Regions from separate parts of the Homo sapiens genome. Here all the other regions are linked to region 2. The links come from fine-mapping of genetic effects on gene expression. A gene starts in region 2. Each other region holds a variant in brackets. All regions are shown on one strand. Distances are between the middles of the regions.

Evidence for each region. PIP is the estimated chance that this variant, and not a neighbour inherited with it, causes the effect.
Region 1: its variant is fine-mapped to the expression of ST7L in lymphoblastoid cells (CAP, PIP 0.95).
Region 3: its variant is fine-mapped to the expression of ST7L in lung (TOPMed, PIP above 0.99). The same link has a PIP of 0.9 or more in fibroblasts, lymphoblastoid cells, monocytes and whole blood.

Annotation. Positions count from the first base shown.
Region 1 is chr1:112,571,149-112,575,431 of GRCh38, reverse strand. The region is part of intron 11 of ST7L (suppression of tumorigenicity 7 like); the gene reads left to right. Among named protein-coding and RNA genes, the nearest start is that of ST7L, 46 kb to the left of the region's middle. The variant TG/G (reference allele first, on the strand shown) is at 2,083.
Region 2 is chr1:112,617,242-112,621,241 of GRCh38, reverse strand. ST7L (suppression of tumorigenicity 7 like) reads left to right here and starts at 2,101. Exons shown (of 15, transcript NM_017744.5): 1 at 2,101-2,333. The coding sequence starts at 2,129. CAPZA1 (capping actin protein of muscle Z-line subunit alpha 1) reads right to left here and starts at 1,410. Exons shown (of 10, transcript NM_006135.3): 1 at 1,359-1,410. The coding sequence starts at 1,397. RefSeq lists enhancers at 1,128-1,577, 730-1,929, 2,038-2,137.
Region 3 is chr1:112,538,675-112,543,025 of GRCh38, reverse strand. It overlaps ST7L (suppression of tumorigenicity 7 like), which reads left to right. Exons shown (of 15, transcript NM_017744.5): 14 at 936-1,075. Among named protein-coding and RNA genes, the nearest start is that of WNT2B, 32 kb to the right of the region's middle. The variant G/A (reference allele first, on the strand shown) is at 2,209.

The DNA of each region.
Region 1 (4,283 bases), 46 kb after region 2:
TTATCATTAGTTATTGTTATTAGTCTCTTACTGTGCCTAAATTATAAATTAAATTCTATCATGGGCATATATTTAGAGGAAAAAACATGGTGTACGTAGGGTTTGGTACTATTTGTGGTTTCAGATATCCACTGGGAGTCTTAAAACATATGTACTGAGGATAAGGAGTGAGTACTGTAAACTTTTATTTTTCTTTAGACAGAGTTTTGCTTTCGCCCAAGCTGGAGTACAGTGGCAGAATCTTGGCTCACTGCAACCTCCGCCTCCAGAGTTCAAGCGATTCTTCTGCCTCAGCCTCCCAAGTAGCTGGGACTACAGGTGCGCGCCACCACGCCCAGCTAATTATTTTGTATTTTTAGTAGAGACGAGGTTTCACCATGTTAGCTAGTATGGTCTCGATCTCCTGACCTTGTGATCCGCCCGCCTCAGCCTCCCAAAGTGCTGGGATTACAGGCATAAGCCACCGCGCCCAGCCTTGTAAACTTTTTATTATGAGTTCTACTACACATGCAGCAAAGTGTATGAGACAAAAATGTGCATCTTAATGATTTATTACAAAGTAAATGCTTGAAAACTATCGAGATCAAGAAACAGAACATTATCAACCCACAGACGCCTACCTGACTGCCCTTTCCCATTACAACCTCCCTTCCTACCTAAAGGTAACCACTATTCTTATTCATTTGTATTCTTATTTATTAATTATGTTTATTTCCTCCCTTTATGTTTTTTATCTGTACTTTTTATTTATGGATTTTTTTTCTTTTTTTTTTGAGACGGAGTCTTGTTCTGTCGCCCAGGCTGGAGTGCAGTGGCGTGATCTAGGCTCACTGCAAGCTCTGCCTCCCGGGTTTATGCCATTCTCCTGCCTCAGCCTCCCAAGTAGCTGAGACTGCAGGCGCCCGCCACCACGCCTGGCTAATTTTTTGTATTTTTAGTAGAGACGAGGTTTCACAGTGTTAGCCAGGATGGTCTCGATCTCCTGACCTTGTGATCCGCCCGCCTTGGCCTCCCAAAGTGCTGGGATTACAGGCGTGAGCCAGTGCGTCTGGCTTTTTTTTTCTTTTTAAGACAGACTCTTCAGCTATTCGAGAGGCTGAGGCAGGAGAATTGCTTGAACTCAGGAGGCAGAGGTTGCAGTGAGCCGAGATAGTGCCATTACACCGCAGCCTGGGTGACAGAGTGAGACTCTGTCTCATTAAAAAAAAAAAAAAAGTCCGGGCGCAGTGGCTCACACCTGTAATCCCAGCACTTTGGGAGGCCGAGGTGGGTGGATCGCCTAAGCTCAAGAGTTCAAGACCACCCAGGGCAGCATGGTGAAACCCTGTCTCTACTAAAAATACAAAAAAATTAACCGGGTGTGGTGGGGTGCGCCTGTAGTCCCAGCTACTTGGGGGGCTGAGGCAGGAGAATCACTTGAGTCCTAGAGATGAAGGTTGCAGTGAGCCGAGATCGCACCACTGCACTCCAGCTTGGGCTACAGAGTGAGACTCCGTCTCAAAAAAAAAAAAAAAAAAAAAACAGGAAAAGAAAAAACGAAGACAGGGTCTTGCTCTCATGCCCAGGCTGGAGTGCAGTGGTGTGATCTTGGCCCACTGCAACCTCCACCTCCTGGGCTCAAGCGATCTGCCCGCCTCAGCCTCCCAAAGTGCTGGGATTACAGGTGTGAGCAAACATATGCCTGGCCCTGGATTTATAAATGAGTTAAAGAGTGGTCCCTGTTTATTTATTCTGTGGAATAATTTGTATAAAATTAGAATTATTTCTGCCCTAAATGATTAGTAAATTTGTTATTAAAGCCATCTGATTCTTCAGTTTTCTTTGTGAGAAGACTTTGAGTTACAAATTTCATTTCTTTAATAGTTTAATTACAAATTCAATTTCTAAGCATATCATAACTATTGAAATTTTTTGTTTCTTCTTATGTTTTTGTTAAGTTGTATTTTTCTAAAAATTTATTTCATCAAAATTCTCAAATGTATTGACATAAGGTATTCATAAAATCCTTTTATTGCCATATTAGTATTTGCAGCATTAGTTGTAATACTCAATTTTTAATTCTTTTTTTTTTTTTTTTTTTTT[TG/G]AGAGGGAGTTTTGCTCTTGCTGCCCGGGCTGGAGTGCAATGGCGCGATCTCGGCTCACTGCAACCTCCACCTCCCGGGTTCAGGTGATTCTCCTGCCTCAGCCTCCTGAGTAGCTGGGATTACAGGCATGCGCCACCATACCCAGCTAATTTTGTATTTTCGGTTGAGATGGGGTTTCTCCATATTGGTCAGGTTGGTGTCAAACTCCCAACCTCAGATGATCAGCCCGCCTCGGCCTCCCAAAGTGCTGAGATTACAGGCATAAGCTACTGCACCTGGCCCCACTTTTTAATTCCTAACCTTGGCTAGTTTTATTTTTCTTGATCAGGTTCTTTAGGGATTTGCCAATCTTACTTGTTTTTGCCAAGAACTTGGCTCTGGCTTTGTTGGGTTTTTTCTACTATTTATTTTCTGGTTCATTCATTTCTGCTCTTTATTGCCTTCCTTCAACTTAATTTGAGTTTATTTTATTTTAATTTCCTGTGTCTTCTCACATAGGTACTTAACTCTGTAATTTTCGTCTTTCTTCTGATATACCCAGTTAAATCTAGAAACTTCTCTCAACACAATTTTAACTGCATACTATAGCAACATTTTTTACATAATTTAGTTCAAAATATTTTCTTTAAAAAAAAATAGAGACAGGATCTCCACATGTTGCCCAGACTGGTCTTGAACTCCTGGCCTCAAGCATCCTCCCTCCTCAGCCTCCCAAAGTGCTGGGATTACAGGTGTGAGCCACCTCCCTTGGCCCAAAATATTTTCTAATCTGTTTATAATTTCATCTTTGATTTAGAGTTATATTTATTCCATGAAGGTAGATATAATAAACAAAAGATTTTCTTCAAATTTTTTTTCTTCTTTTTCTTTTTTCTGCTTTGCTCATGTTGAGAAACAACAGATTTCCAAAGTAGATGAAACAGCCTTCTATTGGAAGAAGATGCCAACTAAGACTTTCATAGCTAGAGAGGAGAAGTTGTTCCTGGCTTCAAAGCTTCAGAGGACAAGCTGACTCTCTTCTTAGGGGCTAATGCAGCTGGTGACTTTAAGTTGAAGCCAGTGCTTACTTACCATTCCAAAAATCCTAGGGTCTTTAAGAATTATGCTAAATCTTCTCTGCCTGTGCTCTATAAATGGAACAACAAAGCCTGGATGACAGCACATCTGTTTATAGCATGGTTTAAACACTATTTTAGGCCCACTGTTGAGACCTACTGCTGAGACATGATTCTTTTTAAAATATTACTGCTCATTGACAATGTACCTAGTCACCCAAGAGCTCTGTTGGAGATGTACAAGGAGATTAATGTTTCCACACCTGCTAACACAACAGCCATTCTGCAGCCCACAGATCAAGAAGTCATTTTGACTTGGAAGTCCTATTATTTCAGAAATACATTTAGTAAGGCCGTAGGTCCCATATATAGTGATTCCTCTGGTGGATCTGGGCAAAGTAAATTTTATATGTCATGGGAAACCAAAAAATTTGTGTGACTTGCTTTATTTTGATATTTGCTTTATTGCAGTGGTCTGGAAGTGAACTTGCAATATGTCCAAGATATGTCTATAGTTACAAACATGAATTTTGGGATATATAAAGTATGCTTCATTAAAACTATATAGGCTGGGCGTGGTGGCTCACACCTGTAATCCCAGCCCTTTGGGAGGCCGAAGCGGGTGGATCACCTGAGGTCAGGAGTTCGAGACCAGCCTGACCAACATGGAGAAACCCCATCTCTACTAAAAATACAAAATTAGCCAGGCCTGGTGGCACATGCCTGTAACCCCAGCTACTCAGGAGGCTGAGGCAGGAGAATCACTTGAACCTGGGAGGTGGAGGTTGCAGTGAGCCAAGATCATGCCATTGTACTCTGCCTGGGCAACAAGAGCGAAACTCTGTCTCAAATAAATAAATAAAACTATATAGATATATAGATAGATAGATATACATACACACATATACACTTTAACATTTTAATGTCATTTTTATTTATAGGTAGAAATTTACCCATTTTCCCCTCAACTAAATATCAAAGCAGTTGACAATTCAGCTATTTCAAAATATCCAGCTAAGTGAGTGATGCTATAAACTTATATTATTGTTTGTAGATAGACCCTTTAAGCCGAGTGTTATGAAACACAATAATTATTAAGGTTTTTTTGAAGAATTTGGTTTTTTTGAGACAGTCTCGCTCTGTC
Region 2 (4,000 bases):
AGTAACTATTTGCCTTAGAACAATTTATTATAGATCGATTTCCAGCATAGGCTTATACATAAATGTTTTTGTCCTAAATCTTAAACATGTATGAAGATCAGTTTCCAAATAAGAGAAAATCTAACGCTGTTGTCAATGGCTTGTTAAACATTTCAAAATGGCATGCCATATCTACATATATCAAGTTATTCCGTACAGAGGACTTATGGATCATAACAGTCCCCTTCCCATCCCAACTTCTTATTGAAAAAAACACCCAGGTAGATTTACAGAGCACTCAAGGGGACACATTTTCTAATAGCCACAGTGGGAGACAAATGTCATAATTCTTGTCCAATAAGTTGCCTTGTGAGGTCATTCTAAGTTCTACGTGCCCTAAAACCATGTACTTACTGAAAAGCCTGACAAACTGTTATGAAACTGTGCAACTGTCAGAAGAAAAGTTATTCCACCTTAGAATGTGCTCTTGTATTTAAGACCCTTTTCAAGAAATGAGCATACAAAATGCACACTGACAAATTCAACTGATCAAAGACTCCACAGTGGAGCATCAAAGAAGGCAGGATGCTTTGTTCAGTCTTGAACGTGTTAACATAAGGTTTATTATGTGTTACAGAAAACCTTTCTGGAGGTTAAGAAAATCCATCAGCTATTCTAGATTTGTTAACAAGAAACAAAATTTTCAAAAATTATCGTTAAAAGGGATGTGTCTATAGGGAAAGACTGGTGTTCAAATTCTGAAGCAAATGCCCTGAGGCTCACAGATTTATTATAGCGAATCAGACAGGCGACAGTACAGGAGAAAAGTAGTGCATGTGTAGGGAGATGGACAACATTTGGGACCTCTCCTTGTCGAAGAGTCGTGACAGCAAAATCACTTCCTGAGGAAGGAGGAGCAAAAGGGAAGTTAAGAGGCCATCCTGACCAGGAAGTGACTCGCCCTAAACTAACCCCAATTATATCTACAAATGGGGGGATGGGGTGAGCCCCAACTGCTAAAGGCGGTAAAATAACTGCTTTTTGATATGTCGCAACATAACCACCACCCTCTCGCAAAATTACAGAAAAAAGTCCACAGTCACGATCCAATAAAGGAAACGTCTGTTCCCTTGCAGGGAGGCCCCTGGGCTGTGCCTCAGGCCTGAGAGAAAAGGAGAGTCGAGGAACGAGGAACTGGGGCCACCGTGAGGCAGAGGAAAGCCCCCTAAGAGGGAAGCGTCCCGACTGCGGAGAGCGTATGTCAGCATGGACCAAGAAGCTTCTTTTTCCTGGGGACACTGCTAGGCTCCCAACGCAGCCGGGCCGGGCCCCAGTTCCCTGTCGGGGGAGGAGGTAAGAGAGAGAGGCGGACCCCTTACCTTCTCCTCATCCGACACACGATCATCGAAGTCGGCCATCTTGGGCTGTTCTGGCCCAGCCCGGCTACGGGCGCGAGGCAGGCCGGGAAGAAAGCCGAGTGATGGAATCACCGCGGCGGCCGTCGGAAGGACCCGCCCGGAAACGCCGACCAAGAGGGCCCCATGTCAGTTATGCGCGGGAGTGACGTCTCCTAACGCCAGCGCCCGCGCCCGCGCCCCAGGAAGTAGGGTTTGCCTTAGGTGATTTGAAGTCTAATATCTTTCCCAATGAGTTACACTCATTTCCCATCCATCTAATGGGCGCTGGCAGCGTGTTTCGATTATTCTTGGCTTCTGGCCTCCATCCGACCAAATAGCTGTTGCTACTCCTACAAGTTTTTCTGGTGCCCGTTATCTCCACGACAGCCGAATCCAAAGCTTTAAGAGCTGCTCGGCAGCTGGAACGATCGGTGGCTTTTCCAACCCCGGGGGGGGGGCGGTGTGAAAGGTGACCCTCATTTCGTTTGGAAGCGGTAACACTTCGGGGTCACATCTCAGTCCAGTTCCTCCAGAATAGGCGCTGCTGTCCGCCCCTTCCCTGCCCCACGAAAGAACAGGTAGCCCCAATCTTGAGACACGCTCCTCCACCTTCGAAATCTTCTCGGTCCCGGTTCCCCAGGACTCAGCCTTCACAGAGGCCAACTTCAGGTCCGCCACTATCCCAGGATTCCCGACTCCCGGTTTCCTGTCCTTCTCCCCTCCCAGCTCCTGGCGCCTGCGATAGCGGCAAGATGGCGGACCGTGGCGGCGTGGGTGAAGCCGCAGCTGTTGGAGCGTCTCCTGCATCTGTCCCTGGCCTAAACCCGACGCTAGGCTGGAGGGAGCGACTGCGGGCCGGGCTGGCGGGGACTGGGGCCTCGTTGTGGTTCGTGGCGGGGCTGGGGCTGCTTTACGCCCTGAGGATCCCTTTGAGGCTGTGTGAGAATTTGGCAGCGGGTGAGAGGACCAGACCTCCTGGGGCAGGGCGGGGGGCCAGGAGAGATGTCGGGGGCAAGAGCCAAAGGGCAAGAGATTCTCGGTAGTCCTAGAGGGCCTCTGAGGAGTCGATGATGAGCGATCAAGTGAGTTCTTTTTCTTTTGGGCTGCAACCTTGCAGTTGATTGACAAGCCTGCTGCCGTTACCGGCTCCTCCGTAGAACTCTTAAGGTCCGCCCTCTCTCTTATGTCCTCGTTTTTCCATGGAAAAGCCACCTGACAAGCTATAAGCTTCAGGTATTAGGACAGAAGAGTGTCTCAGATTAGGATACGTAATTTATATTGGCTCCCCCACCTCTGGTAGGATCCCTTAAAAGTCACTACTTTGAGTCTCCCGCTGCCCAGCTGAAAGAACTCATATCCAGGCAACAAAGATGAGCACATCTGTAATTTAAAGATTTCAGAGAAAGAAAATGGCATGATTTTAATTGAGGATTCTCTTGTTTTAAAATAGTTCTGTTAAGAAATCGTTTTCGTGATAGTTTTGTCTGTTCTTTTAGGCTTATCTTGAGTAATAAAATAGTACAGGAAGTGAGAGCGCCACAAACAACAGTGGGTTTGCTAGTTCTTTCGACGTCTGTAGAACACTTGCTACGTATTCTGTGCTGACAATACGAACACATGTAAGAAGTGATGATCCTGATGGATTCTCATATACTGTACTATTCTTTAGCTGTAGACAGGATGAAGTGTTTAGGGCCCAGGTCCCCTTACCATGTGATTATATTTCACTCAAGATCTGAGCAGCAACCTCAGAACAAGATATAAGTATTTCCATTACATGATTCAGTATGGTGGTTGATTTTTCTGAAGCAAAAGGCAGCAAATGTCCCCTTTCCTGTTCAGAGATGACATGAAAGACTGTGAGTTAATGTTCGGAAATATTTTGGTTTTTTTGGAGGATAGGTATCAAGTTCAAATATAACTAGCACTCTAAAATAAGCTAAACTGAAGAGCTAATTTGGCATCTCTGTAACAGGTGAATGAAGTGCTTAACGGTGGTTTCTATGCACAGTGTTACTGATTGACTTGTCATTTATTTTTCTACGTTAACCATATGCAACATTTAGATGAGAATAGTTGATTACTATAGATTTTTCTTTTTTACGTTTCGTGTGTGTGTGTGTGTGTGTGTGTGTGTGTGTGTGTGTGAGAGAGAGAAAGACAGACAGAGTCTCCCTTTGTCACCCAGGCTGAAGTGTAGTGGCAAGATCACTGCAGCCTTGAACTCTTCTGCTTAAGCGATCCTCTGGCCTCAGCCTCCCAAGTAGCTGGGACTGCAGGCGTGCACCACCACGACTGGCTGAGTTTTAAATTTTGCGTAGAGACTGGGTCTATTTTATTTGCCCAGGCTGGTCTTGAACTTCTGGCTACCAGTGATCCTCCTGCCTTGGCCTCCCAAAACTCTGAGATTATGGGAGTGAGCCATCCTACCTGGCCAGATTTTTATTTTCTTTCTAAAACCCACAGTACTTATGAGATAATTATTTGAAGTGAAAAATCTGCTCCAGGATTTCAGTAACTCAGGGAGATTTCTGTTTGTTGCTTTTCTCTTTGAGCCATTTTGCCTCTCTAGCTGATATACCAAATACATATGCTGTTTCCTTCCCTCTAATTTGAGACAGTGG
Region 3 (4,351 bases), 78 kb after region 2:
GAGTTTGAGACCAGCCTGGCCAACATGGCAAAACCCCTCTCTACTAAAAATACAAAAAAGTAGCTGGGCGTAGTGGCCTGTGCATGTAATCCCAGCTACTTGGGAGGCTAAGGCACAAGAGTCACTTGAACCTGGGTGGCAGAGGTTGCAGTGAGCCGAGATCATGTCACTGCACTCCAGCCTAGGCAACAGAGCGAGACTCTTCTTCTTCAAAAAAAAAAGTAGCAACTCAAATGTATTTATTTATTTATTTATTTATTTATTTATTTATTTATTTAGAGACAGGTCTGTCACCCAGGCTGGAGTGCAGTGGAATGATCATAGCTCACTGCAGCCTCAAACTCCTGGGTTCCAGTGATTTTCCCATCTCATCCTCCAGAGTAGCTGGACCTACAGGCACACACCACCATGCTGGGCTAATTTTTAAAATTTTTAAAAATTTTTAAGCACGATTTTGCTTAGGTTAGTGTCGCATGCCTGGCTTTAAGCGATCCTCCTCTTTGGCCCCCCAAAGCGCTGGGATTACAGACGTGAACCACCACCTGTGGCTGCAACTCACATTAAGCACTTAAAATGTTCATCATTACAACTCTCCATAGCAACTTCTAGAGGGTTTAGCAACTTATTCAAGATCACATAGCTAATAAGTGACAAAGCTTTTTTTCAAAATCACCTCAGCATGATTTTGTAATCAATATTCTTTCCCATGACGCCATCCTGTTCCCACACCCAGCACAGTTGTCTGGCTATTTAGATATGCTGTTGATGCTGGGATAAATAATGGATAACTGTCTTCTACCTTGCTTAGCCAGAGACTTTCCTTTTTAAATTTTTTTTCTTTTTAATTTTTAAAAACAGATTTCATTTGAAAAGATTAAGACTTGTTTACATGTTATTCTGAAATAAAATTGATTCTTACCTATTCTCCATTGCAGCCTTTCATCATGTTTCTGTTTACCCAAAAAAGGAGCTTCCTTTGTTCATCCATTTCACAGCAGGATTTTGCTCTTCTACAGCAATGATAGCCATTCTCACTCACCAGTTTCCTGAAATCATGGGTATTTTTGCTAAAGCTGTAAGTATGATCTCAAGGACTTGTGTAGATTATTTGTAAAACACACAAGAAACCATCTCTGATCTGCCTGTGCTAACCCAGCTGAACAATGGAAGATATTTGTTGTAAATTAAAGGAATTGATTTGTATATAGTTGCTGCCATAAATACATCAAACATAAATTTTTGGTGATTTGAGCTACTTCTGTTGCTTAAAAGTTTAAAGAATACAATATAAGATTGTAACAATATAACATTATAAAGTTTGCTCTTATAGATCACTTTTGGTGATAAACAGCATTTGTTACTATCTTTGGTATTTTTAAAAATACCCTATTTTGTAAACAAACCCTTTGATTTTTTTCATTTAAATGAAATCATTAGTTCTCAGGATTTGTTGAACTTTAAACTCAAGAGCACAACTAGGATGGATAATAAGTACATAAGGCGGGGGAACAGATGGGACATTTGTCCCTAGGTACAGAATGTGCCTATGTCTCAAAGGTTCTCCAAGTTATTGTGTCTGCTTGTTCTTACTTCCCCAGACTTGGATATAGAACCATGTGTAGTTCTATATTTTCATTTTTACCCTTTAGTTTTGAACTACTTCCCCATTTCCTGAACCAGTTAACACTTGAGGACTGATACTAGAGTGGGTATCCCATCACTATTTACTTTTTTTTTTTTTTCTGAGACAAGGTCTCGCTGTGACCCAGGCTGGAGTGCAGTGGTACGATCTCAGCTCACTGCAGCCTCCGCCTCCTGGGTTCAACAGTCCTCCCGCCTCAGCCCCCCGAGTAGCTGGGACTATAGGCACATGCCACCATGCCCAGCTAATGTTTGTATTTTTTGTAGAGGCAGGGTTTTGCCATGTTGCCCAGGCTGGTCTTGAACTCCTGGGCTCAAGTGATCTGCCCGCCTCAGCCTCCCAAAGTGCTGGGATTACAGGCATGAGCCGCCATGCCCAGCAACTATTTACTTTTCTATATGAACTTATTAATGTCACTGGCTCAAAGTAAAATTAGCAAAGATAATTGCCTTTAAGTCTCCAAGCCTTTTTAAAAATGCATCTTTCTTGTACATCTTTGCATTTCTACCAGGTAGTAGGAGTTAAAACCCAAAAAGAAAATGCTGATTAATTATATTCCCAAAAAT[G/A]AAAACACTGAGAACCATGGAAAAACTAGTCCTTACTTGGTAATGTATTTTCTGTATTTTTCTCTATATGCCTCCATTCTAACTTGTTTCCTCACAGTTTCTTTTTCTGCCTTAAGAATAGTTTATTTTGTGCCTTAAAGATTAGTTGGCTTTTTTCTGGCACCAGTGGTAAGAGCAGTGGTTTCCCTTTTTCCCTGAAGGTCAACCATATAATGTGTTAAGTTGCCACTGGCTGTAGGCCTAGGAGTCTGAGTCTGCACTTGATTCTGGGTCAAACTTCAAGAAGAATGACTTTCCACTGTTGTTCAGGGAGTATAGCTATTTGGTTTGGAAACTGACTATTCTATTTCTTTTCAGTGTAAAATGAACACTTAGTGATCATACTCATAACTGTTATTTGCAGTAGTGCTAATAGTTGAGTGAGTGCATCTCAAACTGAAATGACCTTACTATGTAATCTGGCATCGAATAAAAATGGCCTAGAAAGAGAATTCCATCCATTTAATAGCTGGAAAGAAAATGTGCAACTGTGTATGTGAGATCACAGGCAAGCAATGGGAGAGATGATTCTTGGATTTGTCTCAGGCAAGTGGAGTGGGAAGGAAGTGAAATAGAGCAAGGAGGGAGATCTAGAATCTGGAATAGATCTATACCAACTGTTAGTAGTATATTTCCATGGGGTGCAAGCTACAATTAATGTTTATAGTGTCTGCCTTTACCTAGGCAGTCACTAATGGCACCAGAAGAATCTTTACGATTACATAGCATAAGTTCCTTAGCACTCCTCTAGTAGAGACTGAGAATGAATAATTACATATTTTAAATGGAAGCTTCTTTTTCAGACCAAAAGTTATTGATATACTGCTTTTCTAGTTGATGGATAATAAACAAGCATTTATTTTGGTATCTGTATAGGTGATGGTATATAGTGTTAAGAATGTGCCTAATGGTAAACTTTTACAGCCACATTTTTATCCCTGTGGCCTTTACATGTACATTTTAAAACCCTAAAAGCTAAGTATTTACTGAAAGTTCCTGCAAACCAATATTTGTGCAGGATTTCCAAAGGCAGGTTCCATTTAAGAGTTAATGGGAAATGACTGTGGTATGGGCAGTTTCCAGCTTTCTTTTCTTTTTCTTTTTCTTTTTTTTTTTTTTTTTTGAAACAGAGTCTCGCTCTGTCACCCAGACTAGAGTGCAATGGCGTGATCTCAGCTCACTGCAACCTCCGCCTTCTAGGTTCAAGCAGTTTTCCTGCCTCAGCCTCCCACATAGCTGGGACTACAGGCACGTGCCACAACGCCCAGCTAACTTTTGTATTTTTAGTAGAGATGGGGTTTTGCCATGTTGGCCAGGCTGGTCTCGAACTTCTGACCTCAAGTGATCAACCCACCTTGGCCTCCCAAAGTGCTGGGACTACAGGCGTGAGCCACCGCACCCGGCCAGTTTCCAGCTTATAAACACAATGTGTAGATGCCTTTATAGACAGACAAACAGCAAGGGAACTAAAGGCTTAAATTACACTTCTTCACCACTTCACAGTGTTTGCTCTATGCAGTAGGAGCATCACCATCACCCAGGAGCTCATGAAAAATGCATAACTTCAGGCACCATTCCAGACCTTCTGAATCAGAATCTACATTTTAACAAGATCCCCAGGTGATCCTATATATACATTTAAAGCTTGGAGAAACTTGCTGTACTCTACCCCCAATAAGAGGAATTTAGAACAGCTCGATAGTGCTGCCTTGTCAAGGTGGAAAAGAGGCAGCATTGCAGAGTCATTATGAAATAGATTCTGGAGGCAGGCTGCTTTGCTTTGAATTCTAGCCCTGAAACAATGCTGTACAACCTCGGGTTAGTTACTTAACCTTTTCTACCCTTAGTTGTAAAATGAGAATAATACTACCTCTCATGGGTTTTGGTGAGCGTTAAATGACTTTAAAATATGCAAGTGTTAGGACTATGTCTACCCACAGTAAAAACTAGGTGAGTGTTAGCTGTTGTTGCTACCTTTATTGTCATCATCATCACCAAAGTGCAATAGTGGGAAACCCTACCCCCTTCTTGTTTAAAGGAGATATGTCCTAACAGTCAGCTCAAAATGCATTTTTCCATAGAAACTGTAGTATAAATGGTGATT